Homo sapiens: one gene and its partners. The protein of the gene in region 6 interacts with the protein of the main gene of each other region in a pairwise test. Each region holds a gene or a part of one and is shown on either strand. Other genes may lie near its edges.

The links.
Region 1: the proteins of MAPK8 (region 6) and GFPT1 interact in a two-hybrid assay, tested with the Homo sapiens proteins (one large-scale study listed by BioGRID and IntAct).
Region 2: the proteins of MAPK8 (region 6) and ZNF605 interact in a two-hybrid assay, tested with the Homo sapiens proteins (one large-scale study listed by BioGRID).
Region 3: the proteins of MAPK8 (region 6) and GARS1 interact in a two-hybrid assay, tested with the Homo sapiens proteins (one large-scale study listed by BioGRID and IntAct).
Region 4: the proteins of MAPK8 (region 6) and RPTOR interact in binary tests that used the Homo sapiens proteins (3 or more experiments, as listed by UniProt).
Region 5: the proteins of MAPK8 (region 6) and BMPR2 interact in a two-hybrid assay, tested with the Homo sapiens proteins (one large-scale study listed by BioGRID and IntAct).
Region 7: the proteins of MAPK8 (region 6) and DUSP8 interact in binary tests that used the Homo sapiens proteins (3 or more experiments, as listed by UniProt).

Annotation. Positions count from the first base shown.
Region 1 is NC_000002.12:69,335,093-69,339,099, reverse strand, and holds part of GFPT1 (glutamine--fructose-6-phosphate aminotransferase [isomerizing] 1), read left to right. Parts: intron 1-534; coding exon 535-655; intron 656-1,044; coding exon 1,045-1,202; intron 1,203-4,007.
Region 2 is NC_000012.12:132,935,542-132,939,548, reverse strand, and holds part of ZNF605 (zinc finger protein 605), read left to right. Parts: intron 1-4,007.
Region 3 is NC_000007.14:30,629,103-30,633,109, reverse strand, and holds part of GARS1 (glycine--tRNA ligase isoform 1 precursor), read right to left. Parts: intron 1,663-4,007; coding exon 1,569-1,662; intron 864-1,568; coding exon 673-863; intron 1-672. UniProt on the Homo sapiens protein: Catalyzes the ATP-dependent ligation of glycine to the 3'-end of its cognate tRNA, via the formation of an aminoacyl-adenylate intermediate (Gly-AMP).
Region 4 is NC_000017.11:80,963,502-80,967,024, reverse strand, and holds the end of RPTOR (regulatory-associated protein of mTOR), read right to left. Parts: intron 2,764-3,523; coding exon 2,695-2,763; 3' UTR 657-2,694; downstream 1-656. UniProt on the Homo sapiens protein: Component of the mechanistic target of rapamycin complex 1 (mTORC1), an evolutionarily conserved central nutrient sensor that stimulates anabolic reactions and macromolecule biosynthesis to promote cellular biomass generation and growth.
Region 5 is NC_000002.12:202,564,485-202,568,453, reverse strand, and holds the end of BMPR2 (bone morphogenetic protein receptor type-2 precursor), read right to left. Parts: 3' UTR 705-3,969; downstream 1-704. UniProt on the Homo sapiens protein: On ligand binding, forms a receptor complex consisting of two type II and two type I transmembrane serine/threonine kinases.
Region 6 is NC_000010.11:48,435,225-48,439,915, reverse strand, and holds the end of MAPK8 (mitogen-activated protein kinase 8), read right to left. Parts: 3' UTR 556-4,691; downstream 1-555. UniProt on the Homo sapiens protein: Serine/threonine-protein kinase involved in various processes such as cell proliferation, differentiation, migration, transformation and programmed cell death.
Region 7 is NC_000011.10:1,569,224-1,573,713, forward strand, and holds the start of DUSP8 (dual specificity protein phosphatase 8), read right to left. Parts: upstream 3,049-4,490; 5' UTR 2,678-3,048; intron 1,730-2,677; exon of another isoform or gene 1-1,729. UniProt on the Homo sapiens protein: Has phosphatase activity with synthetic phosphatase substrates and negatively regulates mitogen-activated protein kinase activity, presumably by catalysing their dephosphorylation.

The DNA of each region.
Region 1 (4,007 bases), on a different chromosome or scaffold from region 6:
TTATAAGAATGTATGTGTCCAGGCGCAGTGGCTCATGCCTGTAATCCCAGCACTTTGGGAGGCTGAGGCGAGCAGATCATGAGGTCAGGAGATTGAGACCATCCTGGCCAACATGGTGAAACCCCATCTCTACTAAGCTGGGCATGGTGGCGCACGCCTATAGTCCCAGCTACTCAGGAGGCTGAGGCAGGAGAATTGCTTGAACCCGGGAGGCGGAGGTTACGGTGAGCCGAGATGGCACCACTGCACTCCAGCCTGGCGACAGAGCGAGACTCCGTCTCAAAAAAAAAAAAAAAAGGAATGTATACATAGATAGTTGTCTAAAGAGACTGATAGTAAAATGTTAGCCATGCTTATCTCAAGTGGTAGGATTTTGATTTTTTTTTTTTAAATATTTTAATCTGGGTTGTTTTTATTTTCTAACGTGTCATTTTTGTAATCAGAAAAAGCAAAAACTATACATTGAATCCAAAGAAGTCCGATGAAAGAGTATTTGAAGGAAAGTTCTGTGACCAAGTCATATTTTCTCTGCAGACACGTCAAGTTCTTGAGGAGCTGACTGAGTTGCCTGTGATGGTGGAACTAGCAAGTGACTTCCTGGACAGAAACACACCAGTCTTTCGAGATGATGTTTGCTTTTTCCTTAGTCAATCAGGTGTGTTAATTTTAAAGACTTAAAAGGAAGGAAAGTTATTCTTTCTAATAATTCTAGCATATCTTGGCAAAAGCTGATATTTAAAGATAAACTGGCATTGCAGATGACTTGACGAATACAGATTTATTTTAATGTTACATAATTCTTTATGAATTAGTAAAAATGAACACCTTTTGTGTTCAAAGAGCTGGATTTTCAATGACAGAGAAGGAAGAGAGATCCTGACAAGCCATATTACTTAAAGTTTTATAAATTTATTAAGTGGATGTTTTGTATTTTATTTAAAACAAGTAATATTGTTGAAAGTGTGGTCAATTTGTTTTTGCTCCTAAGAAACAGCATATGTTAAAACTGTTCTGTGTGTTATGGTTGGCCTACTTTTTACACAGGTGAGACAGCAGATACTTTGATGGGTCTTCGTTACTGTAAGGAGAGAGGAGCTTTAACTGTGGGGATCACAAACACAGTTGGCAGTTCCATATCACGGGAGACAGATTGTGGAGTTCATATTAATGCTGGTCCTGAGATTGGTGTGGCCAGTACAAAGGTAAATTCTTGACTCATTTCTCTGATGATTATTTAATCATAGTGTCAGTGAAGCAGACTAGTCTGTAGACTAGTCTGTATCTTATTTTTGTTAGCAGTTATAGAACTCACACATTTTATTTTTGTTAGCAGTTATAGAACTCACACATTTTACTAATCATTGTAATTATTGTAGGACTTTAGGGTCAGATAGATAAAAGACTTGTCATTCTCTCCCTCTTCCTGATAGAGTTTAAAAGGGACTTATGTATATAATGTAAGTCCATTTTGAAAAGGTCTCTGCTGGCTATCCTTGTCTATCGCTTACTGCCCTCCTGCTAGGCACAGTAGGATACATAACAAGTATATAACATCCCCTTCTTTTATGAAGTATAGTCTGGAATTTGAAAAGTAACAAATTAGAAACATCCACTTTAACCATTTTTGGAATTTTTATTTACCTATTTATGGTTTCTAATAAATAATGTAAAAATATACATACTACCTCTGAAAGTTTGTAAGGAGGAATACACCTTTGGTATAAAATTTGGCAACTGCCAGGCATGGTGGCTCACGCCTGTAATCCCAGCACTTTGGGAGGCTGAGGCGGGCGGATCATTTGAGCTCAGGAGTTCAAGACCAGCCTGGCCAACATGGTGAATCCCGTCTCTACTAAAAATACAAAAATTAGCCAGGTGTGGTAGCACGTGCCTGTAATCCCAGCATACCCGGGAGGCTGAGGCAAGAGAATCACTTGAACCTGGGAGGTGGAGGTTGCAGTGAAGCGAGATTGTGCCACTGCACTCCAGTCTGGGTGACAGAGCAAGAGTCCATCTAAAAAAAAAAAAAAAAAAAAAAATTTAAAATTTGGCAATTAAAAAAAATTTTTTAATGAGTATTGTATGACAATATCTTTCTCTTTAGATATTGCTCTGGGGAGGTTTAAAGGTACTGTCTTGTGTTTTGAAGGCCTGGTAAGACTACTTTGCTCTTTGGAATTGGAATATGCATAAATTTAGGTGGCTAATAAAAATAGGAAATCTTAGAAAGTTGTATAAATACAAGAGATGTTATCCCTCCACAAGTGTTTTTTTGGGGTTTTAGGTTTGTTTGGTTGTTATTTAGAGACAGGGTCTTGTTTTGTCACCCAGGCTGGGGCTGGAGTGCAGTGACAGGAATCATAGCTCCCTGCAGCCTCAGACTCATGGGCTCAAGTGATCTCTGCCTCAGCTTCCTGAGTGGCTGGGACTGCAGATGCACCAGGCTAGTTTTTTTTTTTTTTTTAAGATGGGGTCTCACTATGTTGTCCAATGTGTTACTTTTTATGATTTCACATTTTTGTTTTCTCAATATTTTTCTACTTAAGTTTGATATTTCTTGCTGATTATCTAATAAGATGTTGGGATATTGGTGGATTTGAGTTTAATTAAAGGATTGTGAAAGACAATGTTAATGTGTACATAACTGCATTTGAATTCTTTTCCCTCAAAGATTCTCATAGAGAATTTTTTGTAGAAAGTTTGTGATTCTTATATAAAAATTCTTCTTTTCTTTTTCTTTTTCTTTTTTTTTTTTTTTTTGGAGACAGACTCTCACTCTGTTGGCCAGGCTGGAGTGCAGTGGCGTGATCTCAGCTCACTGCAACCCCCGCCTCCTGGGTTCAAGCGATTCTCCTGCCTCAGCCTCCCAGGTAGCTGGGATTACAGGCACCTGCCACCACGCCTGGCTAATTTTTGTATTTTTGATAGCAATGGGGTTTCACCATGTTGGCCAGGCTTGTCTTGAACTCCTGACCTCAAGTGATCTGCCTGCCTCAACCTCCCAAAGTGCTGGAATTACAGGCATGAGCCACACTGTACCTGGCCCCCCACCTTTTTTTTTTTTTTTGGAGACAGGGTCTCTCCTCTTTATCATCCAGAGTACATAGAGTGCAGTGGTGCTCATGGCTTACTGCAGCCTGGACCTTCCCAGGCTCAGGTGATCCTCCCACCTTAGCCTCCTGAGTAGCTGGGACTACAGGTACAGGCCACTACCCATGCCTGGCTAATTTTTGTATTTTTTTGTAGAGACGGAGTTTTACCATGTTGCCTAGGCCAGTCTCGAACTCTTGGGCTCAAACGATCTGCCTGCTTTGGCCTCCCAAAGTGCTGGGGTTACAGGCATAAAAACTCTTGAGTGAGATTTTTATTTCTTGGGTATTTCGATATTGCTAACACTATAATTTACAGAGTGCTGAAACTTGAATTTTCTCCATATGGTAATTAAAACGTGTTACATGTTTGTGCTTGGGTTTCCATCCTGTGGCTGAATAAATGACCAGCCACCTTTAGTAGCACTTAAGGATTTGATTGGGGGATTGGAATCCCAGAGGCTCTTTATTTATAACAGATTGTGAAACAAGGGCTACAACGTGGTGTATGTGGGATATGGGATTGTTTGGATGGATGCCATTGACTTAATCTTTTCATAAAATGTTTCTGGAATTGTGAGCTGCCAAGGGAAATATATATTTTACATTTCTCATTCCTTTGTTTATGAGAACTTTAATTTGCCTCAACATTTTATGATGATGATTTTCAAATATACAGCAGAGTTTTAAAAATTTTACATACAGGCTGGGTGCAGTGGCTCACAACTGTTATCCTGGCACTTTGGGAGGCTGAATTGGGAGGATCACTTGAGGCTAAGAGTTCAAGACCAGCCGAGGCATCAGAGTGAGACCTTATCTCTATAAAAAATACAAAAATTAGCGGGGCATGGTGGTGCGTGCGTGTAGTCCCAGCTACTCAGGAGGCTGAGGCACGAGGATCCCTTGAGCCTGAGAGTT
Region 2 (4,007 bases), on a different chromosome or scaffold from region 6:
ATTAGTTAGATACAGAGTTTCCACACACAGGTTCTCCAAGGCCCCACCAGAGCAGCTAGATACAGAGTGTCAATTGGTGCATTCACAAACCTTGAGCAAAACACAGGGTGCTGATTGGTGTGTTTACAAACCTTGAGCTAGATACAGAGTGCCGATTGGTGTATTTACAATCCTTGAGCTAGACATAAAGGTTCTCCATGTCCTCACCAGCAGCTAGATACAGAGTGTTGATTGGTGCACTCACAAACCTTGAGCTAAACACAGGGTGCTGATTGGTGTATTTACAATCCCTGAGCTAGATATAAAGACTCTCCACGTCCCCACCAGACTCAGGAGCCCAGCTGGCTTCACCTAGTGGATCCCGCACCGGGGCTGCAGGTGGAGCTGCCTGCCAGTCCTGCGCTGTGCGCTCGCATTCCTCAGCCCTTGGGTGGTCGATGGGACTGGGCGCCGTGGAGCAGGGGGTGGTGCTCGTCAGGGAGGCTGGGGCCGCATGGGAGCCCATGGAGTGGGTGGGAGGCTCAGGCATGGTGGGCTGCAGGTGCCCAGCCCTGCCCCGCGGGGAGGCAGCTAAGGCTCGGTGAGAAATCGAGCGCAGCGCCGGTGGGCCAGCACTGCTGGGGGACCCAGTACACCCTCCGCAGCCACTGGCCCGGGTGCTAAGTCCCCCATTGCCCGGGGCCAGCAGGGCTGGCTGGCTGCTCCGAGTGCGGCGCCCACCAAGCCCACGCCCACCCGGAACTCCAGCTGGCCCGCAAGCGCCGCACACAGCCCCGGTTCCCGCTCGTGCCTCTCCCTCCACACCTCCCTGCAAGCTGAGGGAGTGGGCTCCAGCCTTGGCCAGCCCAGAAAGGGGCTCCCACAGTGCAGTGGGGGACTGAAGGGCTCCTCAAATGCCACCAAAGTGGGAGCCCAGGCAGGGGAGGTGCCGAGAACAAGCGAGGGCTCTGAGGACTGCCAGCACGCTGTCACCTCTCACCAGCACTTCGGGAGGCTGAGGCGGGCAAATCACCTGAGGTCGGGAGTTCGAGACCAGCCTGACCAACATGTAGAAACCCCGTCACTACTAAAAATACAAAAATTAGCAGGGTGTGGTGGCGTGTGCCTGTAATCCCAGCTACTCGGGAGGCTGAGGCAGGAGAATCGCTAGAACCCAGGAGGCAGAGGTTGCAGTGAGTCGAGATCGTGCCACTTCACCCCAGCCTGGGCAACAGAGTGAGATTCTGTCTCAAAAAAATAAAAAATAAAAATAAAAAAATAAATGGGATCGGCCTGGCACAGTGGCTCTTGCCTGTAATCCCAGCACTTTGGGAGGCCGAGGCAGGTGGATCACAAGGTCAGGAGATTGAGATCATCCAGGCTAACAGGGTGAAACCCCGTCTCTACTAAAAATACAAAAAGTTAGCCGGGCGTAGTGGCAGGCGCCTGTAGTCCCAGCTACTTGGGAGGCTGAGGCAGGAGAATGGCGTGAACCCAGGAGGCGGGGCTTGCCATGAGCCGAGATCGCGCCACTGCACTCCAGCCTGGGCGACAGAGCGAGACTCCCTCTCAAATAAATAATAAATAAATAAATAAATGGGATCACATATGTGACCTTTTGACAGTGGCTTTTCTCACTTAGCATACCTTTGAGATTCATTCATATCTTATCGGTAGTTTCTTCCTTTTTCTTGGCGTGTGATTCCCTTGAATATGATCCCATGTATGGATGGGCCACAGTCTCTATCCATTCACTTATTGAAGGACATCTTAATTGTTCCACTTTTTAGCAGTTTTGAATAAAGCATTCATCTGCATATAGGTTTGAATATAAATTTTCAGGTGAATGTAAGTTTTCAGTTCACTACTTGAGTAAACACCTAGGAGTGGAATTGCTGCGTTGTGTGGTAAGTCTGTGTTCAACTTTATAAGAAACTGCCAAAATGTTTTCAAAAGCTGCTGTACATTTTACATTCCCACCACAATGAATGACAGTTGCTCTTGCTCTGAGTCCTCACAGATATTTGTCAGGGGTGTGTGTGTGTGTGTGTGTCTGTGTGTGTGTGTGTTTAGTTTTAGCCTTCTAATAAGTACATAGTAGTTTTTCATTATAGTTTTAATTTGCATTCACCTTTTGACAGATATATTGAACATCTTTTCATATATTTACTTTCCATCCATACATTTTCTTTTTTTTTTTTTTTTTTTTTGAGACAGAGTTTCATTCTTGTCGCCCAGGCTGGAGTGCAATGGCACCATCTCGGCTCACTGCAACCTCTGCCTCCTGGGTTCAAGCAATTATCCTCCCTTAGCCTTCCCAGTAGGTAGGATTACAGGTGCGTGTCACCATGCCTGGCTAATTTTTGTATTTTTAGTAGAAATGGGGTTTCACCATGTTGGCCAGGCTGGTCTTGAACTCCTGACCTCAGGTGATCCGCCTGCCTCGGCCTCCCAAAATGCTGGGATTACAGGCGTGAGCCACCGCGCCCAGCCACCTTCCATATATTTTCTTTGGTGAAATGTCAAGATATCTTGTTAATTTTTAAAATGAGGTTATTTTCTTAGTAAGAGTTCTTTATATCCTGGATATGAGTGCTTTAGCAAGTATGTAATTTGCAAATAATTTTCTCTTAGTCTGTGCCGTGCCTTCTCTTTCTCTTAACATTGTCTTTCACAGAGCAAAAGTTCTTAATTTTGAAAAAGTCCAATTTATCAAATTTTTTTCTTAAATTGATCAGGCTTTTGGTGTTGTATCTAACTCATTGCCAAACCCAAAGTCACACAGGTTTTCTTTGGTTTTCTTCTAAAAGTTTTATAGTTTTTTATGTTTAGGTCTGTGATCCATTTTGAGTTAGTTTTGATATAAGGTGTGAGGTATGTGTTGAGATCCCTTTTGCTTATGAGTATAAAATTGTTGAGACATTATTTGTCACAAAGACTGTAGAATTGCTTTTTGTACTTTTGTGAAACAATTGAGTATATTTGTAGGGGCTTATTTTTGAGTTCTGTGTTCTGTTCCATTAACTTGTGTTTTTATCCTTTCACAAATGCCATCCTGCCTTAATTACTGTGGTTGCATAGGAAGTCTTGAAATCAAGTAATGTGAGTCCTTTTATGTTTAAACTATTTTGAATATAAATGTGCCTCTTTCGTAGGCAGCATGTAGCTGGGGTTGCTTTATATTTTCCATTTCTGAGCTTTTGCTTTATTATTTCTTCTGGTCTATCTTCCAATTCACTTATTCTCTCTTTATCTTTTCCTAATCTACTCTTAAGCCCTTCCATTGACTTCTTAACTTTACTTATTATGCATTTTATCTCTAGAAGTTATATTTCATTTTTTTCAAATCTGCTTATTCATTTTTATAGTCTTCTGATTATTTTTCGTACTTTCATTAACCTCTCATTTCTTTGAATATATTAAATATATTTATTTTATATTCTGTGCTGACAGTTCAAATATCCTAAGTCTTTTATACCACTCCTGTTTGTTTTTTTTTGGTTTTTTTTGAGATGGAGTCTTGCTCTGTCGCCCAGGCTGGAGTGCAGTAGCGCCATCTCGGCTCACTGCAAGCTCCACCTCCTGGGTTCACGCCATTCTCCTGCCTCAGCCTCCCGAGTAGCTGGGACTACAGGCACCCACCACCACGCCCGGCTAATTTTTTTTTTTTTTTTTTTAAGACAGAGTCTCACTCTGTCACCCAGGCTGGAGTCCAGTGGTACGATCTCTGCTCATTGCAACCTCCGCCTCCCGGGTTCACGCCATTCTCCTGCCTCAGCCTCCCGAGTAGCTGGGACTACAGGCGCCCACCACCATGCCCGGCTAATTTTTTTGTATTTTTAGTAGAGATGGGGTTTCACCATGTTAGCCAGGATGGTCTCGATCTCCTTACCTCGTGATCCACCTGCCTCGGCCTCCCAAAGTGCTGGGGTTACAGGCGTGAGCCACCGCACCTGGATGATTTTTTTTTTATGTGTGCATTCCGGTTTCTCTTTTACTCTGTACTCATTTTTCTTGAATCTTTATTT
Region 3 (4,007 bases), on a different chromosome or scaffold from region 6:
TTCACGACTTCTGGATTAGACTATAAACTCCTTCAGAAAAAAAAGCAGTCTTTTGCTTCTGTTTTCCCTATTACTTCTGTATCAAGCTAAGCACAGAACAGGCACTTGATGTATGTGCTCAAAGGTGATAAATTAGGCAGGCAGATGTCAATTAAAGCAGCTACTCTTTCCTTTCCCTTACCACTCATCCTTCTCCTTCTGTGCTTCTACCATCTCCATTACTGCCTTCCTATTGACCAAAACTACTGAAACATGATTCACTGTTTTGAATATATGAACACGGAAAAGCTTATACATACACATGTATACGCGTCTGTAAAAATAAAACATTAAAATGTCTAACCCTCCAAAGCCTACCAATAAAACTATGGCAACAAATTCTTAGGATCATATTTCTCTTGCCCAATAAACAAACAAGTATAAAAGCAAACTGCTGGAGAATAAGCCTGGAGCAACACAAATGTTTATAAAATATTAGAGAAGTGCTAATGGATATTTTCATAATTAAACCGGGGGACTTGAGAATCTGGGCTCTGTCTGATACAAGCCGTTCATTAAAATTAAAAAGAAAAAAAAAGGAAAGGGAGCATAAACACATCAAAATCCAACACAAATCAGTAAGAAGCAGTACACATTTCTAAGGCTAAAAATGCCAAAGAGAAGGCCAGATACCTCTGCTCTTATCTGCCGCATTGAGTCACGGTCCCTCAGAGTTGCAGTGTGGGGGGTCTTGTTCACTGTGTCAAAGTCAATGGTGACACCAAAAGCCACGCCAATCTCATCAGTCCTGGCATAGCGCCTTCCGATTGACCCAGAGGAATCGTCTACTTTGTGAGATACTCCATGCCTGGTCAGGGCTTCCGCTATCCAAAATAAACAAAGTAAATTAAAAATAAAACAATGGAGTTAAGCCCAGTGTTATCTAACTACTGTCTTACAAGCTCAGGAGACTTATAAATGGGACCAAGACAAGAAAGCAACAAGTTGAGTTGCAAGAGAAAGAAATATCCCTAAAGTTTAATAAATCCCTTGCGGGAATCCAAATCTTCACTCATACCTCCATCTGATACAGCTATAGGGGGAACAAATATGGGACCAAGAGCCAAGGCCAGAAGGTGAGTCCTGACTCCACCACCTCTATTTTTATGGCTCTAAGCAGGTCAATGGACTCTCCCCATTTCCCAGCTCTGAAATAAGTGGATGTGCCAGATGACCACCAGGATTCCTTTCAGGGCTGTGGATTCTGTGGCTGTAGATCCATTATGGTTGCTACACTCCACTCAGGTTCCCTCGATGAACTTGGCACCAAGGTCAGTATGAGAAGTAAATAATTTTTAAATCTGACTCTTGGGTCCTACCTTGCCTCACTCAAATGCCAGAATAAAACATCTGAGCAAGCATATCCTCTCGCTTAGAAATAAGAGTACAGGCTAAAATCATGTACTCTTTATAAAATCATTTATATTCTTTATTCAGTCTATATTTTTATTGAAATAAATGATACATTTCCTAAAATTCAGTCTCCTTGATGGTGTTCCCATGGAGTTTACCCAATTGAATTTGCTTACATAATTCCTTGACAAATGGCATGAACTCCTGGTTTTGGCTCAGTGGGAGGACGGAACATTTGAATGGAGCAACTACAGCAGGGAAACTGAAGAACTGGATGATTTAAAAAGAAAAAAATCCAAATATGTTAATTTGTAAATATCTAAATGCTAATATCCCAAACCAAAAGAGGTTAATATTCAGCAAGTGTTCAAGCATAACGTCATTACCAAAATGCCAGAAAACATGACATGAAAAGCAGTATGGCAAAAGAGAAGCAGAACCAGCATCAGAAACACCTGGTTTCAGCTCCGAATTTAGGCCAAGTCATGAACTCTTTCTGAACCTTAGTTTCTCCACCTAAAAAGCAGGTCTCTACCACCTGCTCTGCTTGCTTCACAAGCCCGTTACTAAAAAAGTCAAATGATGTGAAAGCATTCTGAAAGCTACTGTATATAAAAGACGGTAATTTTTTGGTTCCACATAAAAGACTTTCTGTGGAGACTACCTAAATATTCAAACAAGTGGCAGTGACCCAAACCAAAGCCCATTCTGTCTTTTAAGAGAAAAACCTATGAACCTCAGTGACCAAGTGAAACAGAAAAGTTTAATTAGCTCACAAACATATGTCCAAAAGAAATAGTACAAAACAAAAAAAGATGTTCCATATACCTACACTAAAAAGTACAGCCTTCTTAAACTGCCCTGAAATAGTTTCTGAGTAACTCAGAAATCAAAGAAAGCAAAAATAAGGCTGGACACAGTGGCTCATGCCTGTAATCCCAGCACTTTGGGAGGCTGAGGCAGAAGAATTGCTTGACCCCAGGAATTCAAGACCAGCCAGGGCAACATGGCAAGACCCCATCTCTACAAAAACTAAAAAATTAGCTGGGCATTGTGAGGCGCACCTGTGGTCCCAGCTACTTGGGAGGCTGAAGCAGGAGGATTGCTTGAGCCCAGAAGTTTGAGGCTGTAGTCAGCTGAGATTGTGCCACTGCACTCCAGCTGAGCAACAAAGCGAGACCAAAAAAAAAAAAAAAAAAAGGCGAAAATAAAAATATTCTGTGGAAGGCAAACCAATCAACCACTTTAGGTTGGAAATGGGAACTGAAGGCAGTTCTTAATACTTGTACAAAAGGTTCACTTGAAGGCAAAAACACAGAATAAATTTGTCCCATAAAAATAATGAATGACACAGGTTCCAGTTTAGCCTCTCACCCAAAGTTCAATTAACCTTTATTGCCAAGCAATGAATATCCCACTCTAAGTAAGGCCTGTATTCCACCAATATGGCTGCTCACATCACAGAAGGTTCAGAATTCTATTCCCTTCCTCCATCTTGTGATATTTCTATTTAATATAAGAGAGTAACAGGGACCTGCCTTTATAGAAAAATAATTTTTAAAATTTCACTAGCAATGTTTTTATACCAAATTTATAGGCAAATGGATTGAGGAACTAGGTGCTAATAATTTAGAAACATTTTTGGCTTCCCACAGCCTAATCAAATTTCTCTTCATGATGGGAATTCATGCAATTCATAAAACACTGTGACTAATTTATTCTTGTTTAGCCCTTACGAAATTTCTATTAAAGCTCTAGTTATATTAATATTGTTAGATTCAAAGGAACAGCTAAAAGATTTTCTAAAACCTTTTTATTAGAAAAATAAGCAGACAAAGCTTGAAGCAGACTTGACATCTAAAAAGAACACATGCAGTTATGTTTGTCATCATTTCTCAAAAAGAACCAAGCCTTATGTTTGCGCACCTGGGGCCTAGCCCAGGTTCTTACAATCTGTTGAATGAATAGGGCTGCTCCTTCAAGGTTGGGAAATGAAGATGCAACTTTAGGGCAGAGAGTACCATACTAACTTTATTAGCTATGTATTACAATAGTGTGTCAGACTAAAGTACTGGTGCCGAGAACTCACTAGTTCATTCTTTGAGGTTAAATGTCCTAGAAAGAACCACACGGTTGATGTCTAACATTACGTACACTCAAGCTTTAGAATGGCCAAGTGGATGACGCTGTTTCTTTCAATTAACCTGACATATACAACCTCTCCTTTCTAGCCATTCTTCTGGTTGGCTTTCCTAGTAATCTGCCCAGGAGTGTAACTTCTGCAGGCAGAGGTGAGGTAAAAATGGTGAAGTAAGGCAAGGAGATAAAGAGGAAGAAGGCAAGGAGCAGTGATTCAGAAGCATCAGACCGAAAAGAAAATTTGTGGGAGCTGATGAAGACTTCTTATAAACTTCTATCTTCAGCAATACTTGAATGCTAGGAAAGGCTATACCCCAGACAACTATTATCCCATTTATGATCTGTCAAGCTTTCACAGTGAAATCACTCAGGATTCTTATTTTTTTTAAAAAAACCCCAGATCCCTGGGTCTCAGACCTAGTGAATCAGCATCTCCAGAGTAGAACCTAGGAATTCACATCTTTACCCCAAAAGTA
Region 4 (3,523 bases), on a different chromosome or scaffold from region 6:
ACAGCGTGCGATTCCATCTCAAAACAAAAAGCAAACCCAAAAAGAGTTGGCCAGAGGGATGTGCAGATGTGATTAGGGCTAAGGACCCACACAGCCCGAGGTGGGTACGGCCCCTAGGCCTGGAAACACTTCTGGCCTGCATGAGAAGTGGTGACGGTGGGCGTGGGTCAGAGGCCCTGAACTGGAGGAAGGGGCCACGAGCCAAGGAGAGTGGGGGCCTCCAGAAGTGGGGAGGAGCGGGGAAGCGGCTTCTCCCCCAGGAACTCTGACGTGGCCCAGATTTCAATGCAGACTTGAATGGGGCCTCTAACCGTGAGAGGATAACCGTCATTTTAAAGAGAAAGACACGTGTCTGGCCTACGTCACAAGATGGCTCTTGCCACACAGTACGCTCCCTGATGTGGGGTCTGCGCCACAGGGCTGGGGGCACTGCCTGGGAGAAAAGGACCGAGACCTTTGCACACTCGACGTGCCAGGCCCCCTGTGGCCACAGTGCCTGCCTGGAGAGCACCCGGGACGCAGAGCTGCTGGTGGCCCTGGGGACAGCAGGGGGGACCCGGGCAACGTCCCCCCACCCCCCAGAGCTCTGCTCTGACCGATGCCCCCCTGAGGTGGGGTGGGCAGTTTCCTTAAAGACACAGCCGCCAGCCGCGGAGTCTGCGCGTGTTGTTTACTGTTGGTCACTCTCTGCTCTTAGCTTCACATTACCATTTCGTGTTTTGTCAAAGTCCGTCTCAATTCGCGTTTGGTAAAATAAATAGATAATGAGCCTCTAGGCCGGCGCTCTCTCGAGCCGGTTAACGTCGTGATTGAATTTTCACATCAGACCTGTGAAGACAGCCCACGTGCAGGCGGCACGCGGTGCCCATGGGGGTGGGCTCCAGGGTGGAGCGGGGGCGGGGGGGGGTCTTGACCCCTCTGGAGCCACCTGCCTTTTGACAGGTGGTGATTTTGTCTCAAAACAAACAGAAACGCGTGTTGGGTAAGAATTGAGTTGAAGGACTGGATGGGAAGCTGCGTGTGCGGGTGGAGCTGGGCTTCTGGAAGATTCTGGTGTTGCCGCCTGGCACGCCCTGTGAGCTGAGTGAGGCCGGGACTCTCTACACCTTCCGGACCCGGGCTGCTTTCTCGGCCCAGACGTGGGGATGGGATTCGTGCCGGAACCTTCTTCTGGTGGGAGCTCGCATTCCAAAAAGGAGCAGCGGAGGGGCCGCCTCTGTCCTGCCTTGTCACGTCCCGGCCAGCCCCAGCTCAGTCTCCAGCTCAGCCCCCTGAGGGCCAGGTGTGTCTCTGGCCAAATGTGACCAGGCAGGGTTCCATCCACCCAGAAGATGCTCTTGGCCACGGCAGGCCACCAGCCACACCGCAGGAGAGCCGGGCCTCGCCACACCAGCTCTCACTCCCGTGGTCGTGGGCCTCTCACCGCCAGAATGAAGCCACCTGGCTCCTTCACCTCTCAATAATCCTGATTCCCGACGAACACGGAAAGAACACTTTTCAAAATACCATCATTGTGGTTGTGTTCTGTTTGCAAAACTGCTCATACACGCCCTGCGGCCCCTCCTGGGCGGGACTGTCCACACAGCTCCTGTCTGCACCACAGGCCCAGCTGTCAGCCGAGGTCGCATCAGCATGGGCGGCTCAAGGCTGGAGACGGGGCTGGTGTCACCCGGAGCCGTCCGGGACCCGGCAGTGCCTCTTGCCTGTATGTGAGGAACGTGTGGGGACAGAGCAGGGAGACCACGCCGCCTGCATGTGTGTGCCCCCAGGTGCCGGCCGTGGTGCCATCTGCACATGCGTGTGCTACACCTGTGTGAGGGCACAGGCATGGAGACCACAGGTCGGGCTGCTGTCCCCGCGCCTGTGGGGAAGAGCAGCCCTTCGGAGGGAAAGGAGCCCCGTGGATTAAGGCAGGGGCTACCTCGCCAAGGACCTGCCTCCCCTGTGCACCGCCACAGCGGCCCCTGCTGACAGCTCTGTGTGAGAGGGGCCAAAACTGGAGTCCAGAGACCTGGAGGTGCGGGGAGGGTGGGCTGTGCGCTTCCTGCTCAGTGATGCTGCCAGCGGCCAAGGACAGCCCGGACCCCTGGGCGGCTTCCTTCACACCCGCCAGTTGGAGGGGCGTCTCCTTCTTCCTCTCTCTTGGTTTCCCGAATTTCCAGTGTCCCCCAGCTGGCTAGGAAATGTCCCTGCTTGCGTGCACTGACTGTGAGAGGTGGTGGGCCTGGCTGGGGCAGCGCCTCTCGCTCGCTCTTGGCCTGATGGGGACAGCTGCCCCAGGGACCCGTAGGAGCCCCAGCGCCTGCCTCTCCGCCAGGGCTCTGTCGGGGGGTTTTTCTGCAGCTAATGCTCTGATTACATGGAAATAAAGTGAGGTGTTTCCCCTTTCAGCGTCTCAGAGAAACACAGAACAGGAGAGGGACAGAGGCGCCGTGGCCGCGGGGGTGCACCTGGATGCTGGTGCTCAGTGGGAAGCCACCGTCAACCCGAGCCCTCCCCTTCCCTGACATTCCAGACACGACAGCGAAGACAGACAAAAGCGAGTAGCAGGGCCCTCCTGCCGTCATCAGCAGCTAAGGCAGCAGCCAACGTTCACACTGCGGGGCCGCAGCAGCCGACGCCCCGTGCCCCGGCGAGTGACAGCTTCACTATGTACAGCAGGCGGCCGTGGCCTGGTGGGCCCGGGTCACGCCGCTATCTGACACGCTTCTCCACCGAGTACACGGAGATGTAGTAGTCGTTGCTTCCCACGGCCAGGTGAGGCTGCAAGGAGAGAGAAGGGGTGAGCAGGGGTTCAGGTGCGGGCAGACACTGCGGGGGGCGGGGGGGCGCAGGCCAACCCGCATCCTTAGGCAGCTCCTGCCGGGGTCTCAGGAACCCCCACGCCCACCTCAGGCCCGGAAATGCCGGGCCGGTCCCACCAGTCCTCTGCAGGGCCCATGCATGGTGCACTCCGTGAGGGGCGTGGCGCTGCCCCGGGCCCTGCGTGGTTTTTTCAGGACTGCCCCACGGGGCAGCTCTGGGATCCAATGTCACACGTGTCAGCAGAGCTACATGCCTGGAGCCTCACAACACAAGGCGGCAGGTGGGCAGAATCCTAATCTAAAAACAACGGCCTGAAGCCACGTGGGGAGGCTGCAACCAAGGCCAGAGAGCCGTGCAGGTGGGGCCCGGCCGCACAGGGGACAGGGTGAGGACTCGGCCGCACAGCGGACGGGGTGAGGGCCGCAGAGGGGACGGGGTGAGGGCCGCAGAGGGGACGGGGTGAGGGCCGCAGAGGGGACGGGGTGAGGGCCGCAGAGGGGACGGGGTGAGGGCCGCACAGGGGACGGGGTGAGGGCCGCACAGGGGACGGGGTGAGGGACGCAGAGGGGACGGGGTGAGGGACGCAGAGGGGACGGGGTGAGGGCCGCAGAGGGGACGGGGTGAGGGCCGCACAGGGGACGGGGTGAGGGCCGCACAGGGGACGGGGTGAGGGCCGCAGAGGGGACGGGGTGAGGGCCGCAGAGGGGACGGGGTGAGG
Region 5 (3,969 bases), on a different chromosome or scaffold from region 6:
TTTCTCTTGCCACAAGGAGAGCTTGAAAATTGCAGTTCAAAGCAAAACGTAAAATGCGTTACAATCTCACTTGCCAGTTCTGTGACTGGGCAGAGTATTTAATTTCTCTTTCAGTTTCTTCATTTATAAAAGGGGGATAGTAATACATATTATGTAGGATTGTTGTGAGAATTATCAACAATGTATGTAAAATAACTAACACAGTGCCTGGCATATAATACATGGTCAGAAAATAGCAACTATTATACTAAATTTAGTTTTTTTTTTTTTTGAGACGTAGTCTCGCTCTGTCGCCCAGGCTGGAGTGCAGTGGCGCGATCTCGGCTCACTGCAAGCTCCGCCTCCCGGGTTCACGCCATTCTCCTGCCTCAGCCTCCCGAGTAGCTGGGACTACAGGCGCCCGCCACCGCGCCCGGCTAATTTTTTGTATTTTTAGTAGAGACGGGGTTTCACCGTGCTAGCCAGGATGGTCTCGATCTCCTGACCTCGTGATCCACCCACCTCGGCCTCCCAAAGTGCTGGGATTACAGGCGTGAGCCACCACGCCCGGCCTATTTATTTTTTTTTATTTTTTATTTTTTGATGTATCATACTGAGTTATGAAAGTCATATTAGATAGAACATTTACTATTCTAGTGCAAACTCCCTAATTATCATACTAACAATTTCTGGTGACCTCTTAAAATAAAAAAACACAATTACTATTGTCATTAATATGATCTTTAATAAACGGAATAACGCACCATTTTACAGCAAGCCTTTTTAAACCTAAAGAACTGCCTTAAAATCTCCTTCTCCAATGTCTCTGTATCAATACAATCTTTTTATTTAGGTTTATATATATCAAAGCATTTACTTACACTTATTCATAGAAAACTCTTTAGTGGCTTAATGTCAGCTTTCATAGTGGCATCCATAGATAATACAAAAGAAAAGTGATTTGCTTTATTTTATACTCACACTGATCCATCAAACACAACTTATACAGCATAGCAAGGCTTCAGACAGCTTATACAAAAGCAAAATAACTGAAATTATTCATAAAGTCATATATGATAGTCTATCTGTAATGTAAGAGCAAAACACACCAACAAAAGATACCCGTTAACAAGAAAGAGGGTTCTGAGGAAGTGCGAGTATTTTCTAGCCTTTCTTTTTCCGGAAAAGCATCCTCAGAAGTGAATACTCCGTAGCTTATGTTTCTCCTGTCCATTCAGAAAAAGCATGACAGCTACGCATCTCCATGTTTCAGCTACTACAACACCCTAAGAGTTAGTGTATTTTACAATTATCCATGTATCTTTATTTGAAAAATTATCAGCAAAAAACTGAGGATGATTCCAGCTTACATAAACACTGATACAATATAATCTCTATGGAAATGAAATAACAAGGCATACAAAAATTGCTTAAATAAATAAATGTGGCCAGAAAAAGAAAAGCCACAGAAGTCAAGCAATTCAGTGTTAAACTGGGACCTATCTTTGAATTGCATCTTTTAGTAATTTTTTCTTACTGTTAAGCTTCTTTAAAAATATGTTTCCTTTACATACTTACGAGGATTGGTAACAAGGTGAAGAGCCTGAGACAAGAGACTGGTTACAGATAACTTCCTAGGATTTTAAGTATATAGCACATCAATTTAGAGCTTGAACTTGTCTGATTCAAAGAAAAATTCTGTTTGACAATGTGATAAATACAGGTTATTTTCTCAAAACCATCCAAGCTATTACTAAAGTTATAAAATATTTAGTTCACTTTTAGAAGGCTTTATAACGTTAAATTGTCTCTTGAGAAAATCCTATCTGACAGGAACTACTTTACCAAGTTCCCTTATTAAAAAACAAACAAAATGAAACAATTTGTCCCATATCATGTATGGTCATTTGACCAAAGAACAGAAATGTAAGTCGTTTTAAGTCAGTGCTTCAACTCTAAAGGCCTAAATTTGTTGCAACATGTAGCCAATTAGTTGAGTCATTCCCTCTGTTCAGTAATTACAGAACTGGGCAACTTTTTATAATTAATGAAATCTGATATTATATCTATGTGAAAAAGTCAAATAAGATGAAACATTAAATGAACTGTGCAACAAACACTTTAAATATTCAACTGGATCTAATTGCTTACTTGCTAACAATTGAACTTTTTCAGTGTACAAAGGGATGAAAGGGGCCCTGAGTTTTTAAGTAACATGATGTCTGTAGAATGCATCTAAAACATGAAGATGTTTCTGAAATCTAAAGGTATAAATAAAATGGATAAAACCCACATGTTGCCTTTTAAAACTGAAAACCAAATCAAGTTGTAGTTTCAAATACAGTAATTTGCTTAAAAATTCAATCATAAACTGGACACCCTAATGATGTGATTTTGTTCTGAAGATTCCTTCTCTCTTACCCAGATTTTAAAATGGGTTTCAAGTTGTTTTAAAAATGTGTATGTTCACAATGTTTAATAGTAACACTACAAACATCACAGTAATAACAGAATTGGACTTTTAAAGATACGATAGATTTATTTTGAGCCTAGTTTTAATATACAGCATAAATTCTTCTGAAGTACTTTCAAATGTATCTGCCATGAGATAAATTTCTAGGTTTTTCTCTATATGCACACTCAACTTAAATCAGTCACCTAAAAGTTAAATGAAAGTTGTATAGTCCAGTCTATGTTGCAAAATAATAAGTATTTCAAAAGTGGTCTACAAAAATGTCCATAGATAATACCTGATTAATGTAGGGTTTGCTTTTGAAAGTTAATCTTGCATTTAGTGTTTAATATTTCATACAAAAAATATGTAAAAGGTTGTGGCTCAATCATAAAACTAAGCTTGCTGCAATATGTTAAAAAATTTTAATGGCAAAATGATATACAATTCTGTGTGCATGGCTTTTTAGTTATAACTAATGAGAATATAAAATCATAAAATTCCACAATAGAAAATGTTAGATAACACAAAAATTAAGTGCCGATTTGCTGGTGGTCTGATGGTTGAATCCACTTTCAAATAGAAACATCTTAACTCTCGATTCTATCAAACTATCAAACTATTACTTAACTGGAGTAATGAATTTGAATATAAAAGAAAATATAATTCTATATTCTTAAATATAAAGTCATTAAAATAGGACTGAGGAGAAGAGCTTAAGCAATTTTGTCTGAAGAATTGAGACTTAAGTGTTCATTGAGAGGCCTGAAGCATACTGAAGACTAAGAATATTGGGGATGATGACCAACTGCTCTTTTTTGTCCTACTGGGTAAAAGAAAAAAATTTAAAATCAAAGAGGAGGGAGACAGAATAGATATGAAGAAAACTTTCCTGACACAGACTACAAATCAGATAACTGAGGTTTGGAGTAAGTCAGACATAAACTATGAGGTGATTTTTTTTGTTTTTTTTTGAGATGGAGTCTCACTCTGTAGCCCAGGCTGGAGTGCATTGGCGCGATCTCGGCTCACTGCAACAACCTCCGCCTCCCGGGTGCAAACGATTCTCCTGTCTCTGCCTCCCGAGTAGCTGGGACTACAGGCGCGTGCCACCATGCCTGGCTAATTATTTGTATTTTTAGTAGAGATGAGGTTTCATCGTGTTAGCCAGGATGATCTCAGTCCCCTGACCTCGTGATCCACCGTCTCGGCCTCCCAAAGTGCTGGGATTACAGGCGTGAGCCACCGCGCCCAGCCTAACTATGAGGTGATTTAAGGAAAGTAATGGGAAGGTGCACTTAAATGCCCTGTGATTCCCTCTTTTCTTTATGTTAATCTGGAAACTTGTAGAAAAGCCTTCTCTTGATAACAAATTTTATGTAACTAGCTCAAACAGTGATTTGCCAGATTTACTTAATCAAGGAATATATTTAGGAGGGAATCATGCAAGATAGTTTTGGGTAAAGTTTGCACAGTTCATAATCTAAAAGTTAAAATGCAACCTTATATGCTGGAGAGTAAACTGCCAGTAACAGTAC
Region 6 (4,691 bases):
CGCTCCTCAGAGGAGGGCAGTGTGAGTTCAGGTGAGGGCAGACAGCACGGTACAAAGGTCATTTGGAGCAGGAACTGTGCAAGACGGAGTGGCGTCATTACAGTGGCTGGGAAGGTACTGCAGGGACCCTGTATTCCCACACAGCAGCAGACCCAACGTAGGCAAAGAGGAAATAAGCATGGCAAAAGTTGGAAACAGTCAAAGCTAAAACCTCTTGCTTGTTTTGAAACAGACCCCAATTTTAAGTACTTATTTTTGCCAAGTGGTCACGATGGCTGTTCTCTCATATGTCTACCAAGAACTAGGTTAAGGGCATTGAAGCAAAGTTCCTTTTTTAGATAAAGTTTATCCAGCAATTTCAAACACCAGAAATCCAAGACCAGATCAACCAGATAATCAGCGTGATCATTTAGGCTCTTTACAATCTGTACAAAATCCAAATCTAAGAAACCGGCCCTAGCAAGACCCCTTTTATCCCAATCCACGGACAATCCTAAAATTGCCAAGAAAAACTTTACCACAAACAGATTTTGTTTTCAATGAAAAAACTCTTAATTTCATAATTTTCATACCACTTTTTTCTTTTTTATTTAAAATATTATAACCAATTGACATACTAGATAACATTGTTTACATTCCAGTGGTGCATGTTTAATGACTAGGGCATGAATGATGAAAAACCACAATAATGATCTCAGCATTCCCTAAAAAGTGCCCCATTTTGTTTTGTCTAGAGGAAAGGAGAGGGAACGGAACACAGGGAAGGAGAGGAATGGAGGAGGAATGACATCGCAGAGGGAGAAAAGCAAATGTCAGCTATCATACTCAGGTTTCCAGGTGTGACACCCTGCTGACCAGGATAAACTGTAATGAGAAAATAGATGTCACAGTCCAGGGAGACACGTAATTCAGTCTAACTTCATTATTCAGCTAAAAGATTAACAGCTTCTCAAAAATATACCAAATATTGGGCCTACAAAAGTAATTTATTTCTTCGTAAAATTTTTACTAAGATTTACTCCTTTTGTAAAATGTAAATGGACCGATATCACGAGCAGGTTTCTACTTACAAAAACAGTAATAATGTCAACGAGCACAATTTTGCAAGACATACAGTCAAAGATTTTACACGTGTCTCTTACTGATGTAAGGTATATACTTTACATACTTACTGGTATTGTGTCAACATTGGCTAGAAAGTATTTAACACACATTTATAATTCACTCAGTAAAGATCTAACAGGGCAACAGCTTACTTGGGAAAGCATAGAAAATTAGTGTGAGGTAGTTCAATAAAAACCTAGTTTAATTTGTAAGTCATTATGAGAATAGAACATTGTGCAAAATTAATCCACAGGTAATATTTCTCAAAAGTTTCAGTAACGAAGAGAATCTAAACTAGAAATGGCCAGAAAGTGTTACTGTTACTAGACTCTCCTTAAGAGCACTTAACGAAGAGCAGTCAGTTTGAAATTAGGACTTCTGTTTTCCTTACGAGTTTTCTAATCGTACCCCAAACTATACATTTCTGCTTCAATGCCCTTTACCTCTTCATCTTTCTTGCTATTAAGGAAAAATTAGTTTCCTTTGATTCCGTAAAAACCTAAGAGAGATCAGTAGAAACACAATGCACACAAAAATGCAACAGGATACGGAGAGGCAACATTTAAGAGGGCTGCTAATGACAGAATGGTGTTTGGTTTACCTACTGGTAAGAGAAGTTTACTGGTGTCATGGGGCTTCATGCATCCACTCTATAGCTAATGTGTAACTAATGAACAACACTCACAAACTACAACAGTATTTCTGAAAATATTCTATGTTCTAACCTCAAAATGTTGTGCAGGCGAATGCCTAGGCAACACTGAATAGTTAAGTCTTCATATGTTTAGCAGATACTGGCCAATAGTGTAAACCAAGTCTTATCTGTAACCAAGGAAAGAGCTTCACTTTCCTGCTGATGATTTCACTATCAGACACTGATGTCCTCTTCCCTCCATCTTTTAGACAACACAGCAGGATTAGCATAGAACAGAACAATGACAAGGCTGGCAGGATGCTTCTTTGCACACCATCAAGCTTCTTTGGATTGTTAAGGGGGTTGTGTGTAGGCTTCTGATTTAAGAGGCTGGTGTTTCTCTTAGAAGTCTGGCATGAACACACTGTGCCTTTACCAACTCGGAAGAGTGCACGTCAGGAACAATTAGCAGCCAAAGGTGCATGACACTGAAAACTGTTCAGCAAACACTATGACAGAGTTGAGATGCTCTATCTGCGTATAGTATAACTAAGTGATCCCAACAACACAATGGTTTTACAAATGGCCAGTATATATTAGAGGGAAGAGAATAGTAACCAGGAAGACATTGGTACAGAATTAGCATCTCTTTCTGAATCTATGAAGATAATAAAAATCTTGGTCAAAATAACTTTCTGATAGTAAGACAGTGAGTATATTAAGTATATAAAATTGAAAAATCAAAATTATAGAATAAGAAAGGTGGTTTCATACAAGTACTACCTGATAGAAATGTTATTTGTAACTTCTCTTCAAAAAAAAAATGTTTAAGATGCTTAAAGGATTCCAAAATAAAAAGAACCAACATATATTTAGCTTAACAAATTTAAGACGAAAACTGTATTTGGATGTAGTAATTTAAAACCTAGGGCATGCAACATTTAACAAAGAGACCTTGTTTTTAGGATATAATTTGTTAAGTATTTTAGTTTACACTAAGTAATGAGAGTTTGTTTTCTTTGAATTGAACTGAACATGATGGTTGGCAAGTGGCAGCTGGCATTTACAATAAATGATACAGACACACACCTGGTTTTCCTTACTTAACCAAAATCTGTATCAATAGAGATGGCTTATCAGCAATCAAACATAAAATATGAGAACCTTCTGAAAGCATGTCTGCTGTGAAAGTGCAACAGTGACATAATCTATGCTACAGAAAATACAGCTAATTGTGAAATTAATATAAACACACTCATTCTCAAATTTCTGCTGAAATTGTGAATCCAATATTTTCTGTCTACAATTCAAGAAGTGTCTTAGAACTCTAATTTGCCTAATCAAATTAATGCACCTTGTTGTATTAGAAAAGGGACTGATAAAAAGGCTGGGAAGCTGGAAATCATGACTCTAAGCCATCGAAAACAAACTTGCTACTTCAAAGTATATAAAAAAGCTAATGTATTTTAATCTTAAATATTGCACATTAACAGTGATGTAAAATATCTCACTCAAAAATAATTTTGCACTAAATATATGAATAAAATGCCAAGCAAATTTTCAGACATTGCATGTTGAGCCGCACCTGTTCTTGCTCCTGTTGGTCACAAATTCCAAGGGGCTTTCTGCCTAGAACCTTGTTGCTTATGTGAGTATGCATTTCCTAGTTCATTACATGAAATCCCTCTTGTTCCAGAGATAATTTAAAAGGTGCCTGGGTCTATTACAGACAACGTATTTCAGAAATAACGAGACTTCAAAGACATTTTACTTAGGAAAAGTTCAGTAATAGAGAAATAATTCTACAGATAGAAAATGTAAACAGTTAACATACACTTGTCAGGAGCAGCACCATTCTTAACACTACTCGACATCCACATTGCGTGTTATGTTGAAAATCAGGTATAAAAAAATAAAAGACTTAGACTAAATAACCACCATTTATGCCTGCTCTGCTCAATGTGAAGAAACAGTCCTTAGAAAATGATATCCTATATATGGCTGTGTGCTACTATTTTCAGATGAACGGTATATTGCTCATTTGATACATCACCTACACAAATCTAGGTAGGGTTTGGAACCTCCCAATAGCTCGTATAAATGATTATGCTACAAGTAGAATCAAATGAAACACCAGAACAACTGGTGCTCAACTGACAGACACTCCAAGTAATAGGAAACAGGAAAGGTCCAAGGACCCGAAGCTGCAGGAAAGGGAAAGACCAGACTCTAGAACATTGCTGGGACCTACAGCCTGAGTAGATTAACTCAGTGTATACAAAAACAGGCTCATAGCTAGTAGAAGTGAACCATCTGTTTATTTGCATTGAAATGTATTATTCATGAAGTATCCTCTTGCCTTTATGTGATCATAAACTTTGAGCATGCCACAAATTTGTAGAATACACCATATTCTTTTTACTTATTTTTGTTGGGTAGGGTGGGGACATAAGGTGGTGGTAGACGCCCAGCATCTTCAAAGACATGCTCTGAGTTATTCTGCCATTTAGATGACGGGGCTTTTGCCAAAATTAAGTAGGATTGCCTACCAATTCTTGTAACTAAATTAGGATTGGCAAGTAGCAAATATTGGAGGTCTCCTAACACGTTCATCATTTACAGTAGTTATTCCTGAATATAACTGGCTACAAGTTATTTTCCCTCACTCCTCTGGGGTTATTTCATTGATAAGCACATAACCCTGAAGGATAGTATCATGAACAAAACATCTGAAATAAATTCTAATTAAAAAAAACTATAAAAATCTTAAATAATTCATGATATAGGCAAGTCACCACATAATAGTTGCTTTGATAAACAAAATCTTACAAATTCAGTTAAAAAAATCAGCAGCATAAGATAAAGCAAATATGCAAAAAATTTAAACCATGATAAAATAATTAGGTTTACATTATACAGTTAATTACAGCAAAAAAAATACAATACAGTTTTG
Region 7 (4,490 bases), on a different chromosome or scaffold from region 6:
AAAGTCTTTGAGCCCAGGAGGAAGCAGTTTCCAAGTCCAAAGTCAGAAGAAGGCTCCTCCCAGGCCCACACCTTCCAGGAGGCACCAGGCCGCCACCCTCCCCTGGGACACAGCACGCCTGGCTCCAGTGCTGCGTGCACACTGCCCTCTGTGCGTGCCAGAACACACCTCTTTGCACACCCACTCCACACACAGGGCTGGTGCTCCTTACCCACAATCCACCTGCCCTGTGTGCAAGTACCCACGCGTGAATATGTGCACACGCGTGGGCTGGACATACACTAGAGTACACGCACGTCCTTGCCCTCTGTATGCAGGATCCCCTGAGAACCCCAGGACTCCAGTACCCGAGGGGTCAGCTTCAGACTCCTTACAAACACGAGCTCCCACACCCAGCGTCTCTGTGCAGCACATTCCTGTCCCTGAGCACAGACGGGACCAGGGAGTCCCAGGCCACCCCCAGCTCTCAACTGACAGCATCCTTACCATGTTACCTTCTGCTCAGCACCTAGAAATGGGGACTCACTACCTTCAGAGACAGCTGCCAGGACTGTCAAGCATGGGGGGATGGGACTGTGTCTCCCCCTCACACCTAGGCAGGCTCTTGGAGCTGTCCGGCTCACTGTTACCCAGGGATGCTTCTGGAGGCAGAAATCGTCACACTAAGGAGGCTGAGGAGAGACTGGTGGGTGGCAACTCTGGGAGGCAGGGACCCTGCACTCACACAGGTCAGCTCATCTTCCCTCACTGGGCTCCCCCAGATGCCCTCATCCCTGCCTCCCCTCAGCTCCCTTGGCTAGTGCTGTAGGACCCAAGCTGGCCTACACTCTGCTCCGCTGGCCTGGGGAAGCTGTGGACCTGGGAGAAAGTGGGGTGGGGCGGGGGGCTCCCTCCGATCCCAGGAACGGGGTCCGGGCAGGGCAGGGGATGGGAGGACTTGGCACAAGGGGCCGTGACAGTCGAGTCTCAGAGCCGGACATATCCAGGTTCCCTCCCTTCCCACCAGACCTGTGTCCCTCCTCCTGGTCACTGTGCCACATGCTAAACATCAGGACCAGTGTGGCGCTTCCAAGGTTCACTGCCCTGAGCAACTCCGGCAGAGGGGGCCTCAGCGGGTGCAGTTCTCATGGCCAGAGTCCAACCACCTCTCTCTCACTGTGGGTCTGCCCCTTTCCCTGCCTTCTGCAAGAAGTGACACCTAGGTCTCCCCAGGCCCTAGCTGATGCCCCTTCGAGGCACCTGTCCAGTGGCAGCCTCTAGGCCCTGACTTCAGCCCCAGCCTGAGAAGAGAAGGGTCCTGGAGCAGAGACTGACTCTAAGCGTCTTTCTGCACCTCTGTTAATGGGACTTTATTCCCAGAAGCCTCCCCGAGGACAGAGGATACCAGGGGAATAGAACCTGCCCAGCCACACTCGTGCAGCCCCCGGCTGGCTGCAGCAGGAGGTATTTCAGCGAGACTTCAGGATGAACTTCCAGCTGGGGTCACATGATCTGCCATCCGCATCCAGTGCTTATTAGCAGTGAATGCATGGGACTGTCCTCCTGGTGGAGGGCTGGGGCCTGGGGTGCTACATTCACCCCTGGACCGCCCTAGGTGCAACAGTGTCTCTGGGTGGGCTGTGCCAGAAGGGAGGCAAGGGAGAGTGCCGGGGTTTGGATCTCCCCTCAGACCCCCCGCTGGGGCACAAAAGGAGCTTCCCTGGCCTGCAGCACCCCACCCCCACCCCAAGCTGCACAGCAAGAGCACTGCGGAGCCACGCTACATCCTGCCACCCCCTCCTCCATCCCACAGTGTCCCCGCCCCCCATCACTGCAGCACCAGAGCCCCTATTCCCCTCAGCAGAGGCCGGTACACCCCGCAGCAGGGAGACGGAGGCAGATTCTCCCAGAAGGGGTGACCCTGTTGGGGCTGGGCCTATTGTTGCCCCCTCCCCTCCAGGCCAGACTATTAGGTATCCCCACCTGGTCTGCTCCGCATCCCAGGCTGGGCAGCTGGGCCTAGCGAGGTGGCTGCAGCAGCCTGGCTGTGCCAGCCCCTCCCCCAGCGCCGCGGCTGCCTCTGCAGCAGGCGGAAGGGCGCGGGGGCTTTATCCCTCAGGGGCCGGCTGGGCACCCCGGGATGGGGAGGCAGTGCGGCCTGGACACTGGGGGGATGGATCTGCAGCCCTCCCCCCCGACAGGGGAAGGCCCCTTCCCGGGTGTCCCAGGCCAGAGGCCGTCGCGTCCCTCCCACGGCCGAGGCTCCACACCTCCCGGACCGACTCCGGGCCAGGGTCCGCCTGCTCCGGTTCTGGCCCCCGCGGGGGTGACGTTCGGGACGTCGGGGGCTCGCGCAGATCCGCGCTGGATCTCAGGCGGCCCTGGTGGGTCCTGGATTTTTGTCCCCCCCCCATTCCACACCCAAAGAAGGAGCTGCGGGGAGAAGGGCGGCAACGCGGCGGGCGGGCGTGGGCTGGGCCCGGGTCCGCCGGGCGTTGCGGGGGGCGGGGAAGGGGCCTCCCTGTCCCTGGCGTCCTGGACGGCCGTGGCCGCTCATTCCGGGGCCGCCTCCTCCTCCCGGGCGCCCACCGGGTGCCGCTGCCCCAGCGCCCCCGACGCGGCGCCCTCCGCCCCCCGGCCCGGGCCGGTGAACCCCATCCCCGGCGCCCGCCCCCGCCCCGCCGGCGCCTCCGCTCACCTCGCTCGCGCTCGCCTCGGGGGCGCTCCGGGGACCCGCGCCGCGCTCAGGGCGCCCGCTCGGCCGCGCCGTCCATGGGCCCGGCGGGGGCCCGCGCAGCCGGGGCAGGGGCCGGGGGAGCGCGCGGGCCGCGTCGCCGTCGCCGCCGTCGCCGCCGCCAACGCCGCGGGGAGCGCTCGCTCGGGCCGGGGCGCGCGCACTGCGGGCGGGCACGCGCGCTCGCGGCGCGCATCCCAGCCCCGCGGCTCGGCGGGCGCGGCCGGGAGGTTCCGGCGCGGCTCGGGCTCGGGCTCGGGCTCGGGCTCGGGCGTCCGGCGTCCGGCGGGGCGTCGTGGGGGGAGCCGGCTCGGCCGCCGCGCTCGGCCGCGAGTGACAGGCCCGGGGCGGAGGGCGGGGCCGCCGGCGGGGATGAGGTCATGCCGAGCGAAAAAAGCCCCTGACGTCACCTGCAGCCAATCAGCGCGCGCGGCTCGGGGGCAGGTGACGTCAGCGGAGCCCGGGCTCGGGGTGAAGCTGAGGCGGCTGCCGCGGGGGGGGGGCGGGGTGCAGGGTGCGGGTGGGTCGCGCCGCCGCCGCCTTCCGCCCTCACCCCGGGACCGGCTCTTAAAGGGACCACGCGGCGTCCGGGACCCCGCCTCCAGGAAGCCCTCCCGGCCCCGGGCCCCGCGTCACCCAGGCCCCCCGTCACCCGGGCCCCCGGCCGCGTCGCACAGACCCCGGACGGTCCAGCTGAGCGGCTCCGGGCGCGAAGTCCTCCCCCCGACCCGGACAGGCGCCGGCGCCGCTCCCCCCTTCTCCTGGCCTTTGTTGGCGCTGGGCCGCCGCCGGGGAGCCCTCCCCAGACCCAGGCGCGGCGTTTTACCTGCAGCGGCTGTGCTCGCCCCGCCGCGACCCCCGCAGGACGGAGCCGGATCCCCCTGCACTCGGGCGGACCTGGGACCCTCAGAGGCGAGCCGGCTGCCTCGGGTCACACATCCGCGAACTCCGGGGGCGGGCTCCCCAGGACGCCGCCGACCCCCCACGACCCCCAGCCCTCCCGCTTCCGTGGAAAGCCGCCCCGACGACCCCTGTGCGGGCTGTTGAGGGGCCGCACCCCGCCGACCGCTGTGGGAACACCTCCGCGCGTGCGGCGGGGACGCGGCGAGTCCGGGGCAGGAAGAACGCACGGGTAATTGCACCTTCGGCAGGTGTTGGGCGGGAGCAAGGGGGTCAGACTCGCGCTGCAGGGGGAGGGCGGGGGAGGCCTCGCTGTCCTGGAGGAAGGGGACAAAGACCCCTGCCCAGGAGCCTGGGAGCCTTTGAAAGTAATGATTTTTTGGCGGGGGGGGGTTGTCACGAGACACCCTAGACATTTCTAAAAGGCCCCCTCCCCGCTGCCGGGTGGAGAGGGAGCGTGGGGGGATCCGCCTTCTGCCCCCGAGCCCCCAGCCAGCCTGGGCCCCCCAGGGTCACCCTGGGGCTCTGAAGGGGGCTTCGGCCGCTGGTTGAATGAAGGGCCACAGAAAATGAAGCTGGCGCAACGACCGCAGAACCCTCAGTGGGCACCAGGACCACGGAGCTCAGGGTGCCAATGGTGATGGCTGGGGGTGGGGAGTACTGTGGGCAGCAGGGGATGCTGAGCGGGGTTTGGGGCTCCCCCTTTCCATACTCAGTCTTCCTGCCAGCCTCAGAGCTGAGTACACCGTTGGCGATTAATAAGCGCTTGCAGCTCCCTTCCCTGGCCAGCCTGAGGGGAGCGGCAGTGGCCCGTATGGGGTGGGGGTGGCGGTGGAGTGCGTCCTGGCGCAGAGCTGGCACACAGCACAAACAAACG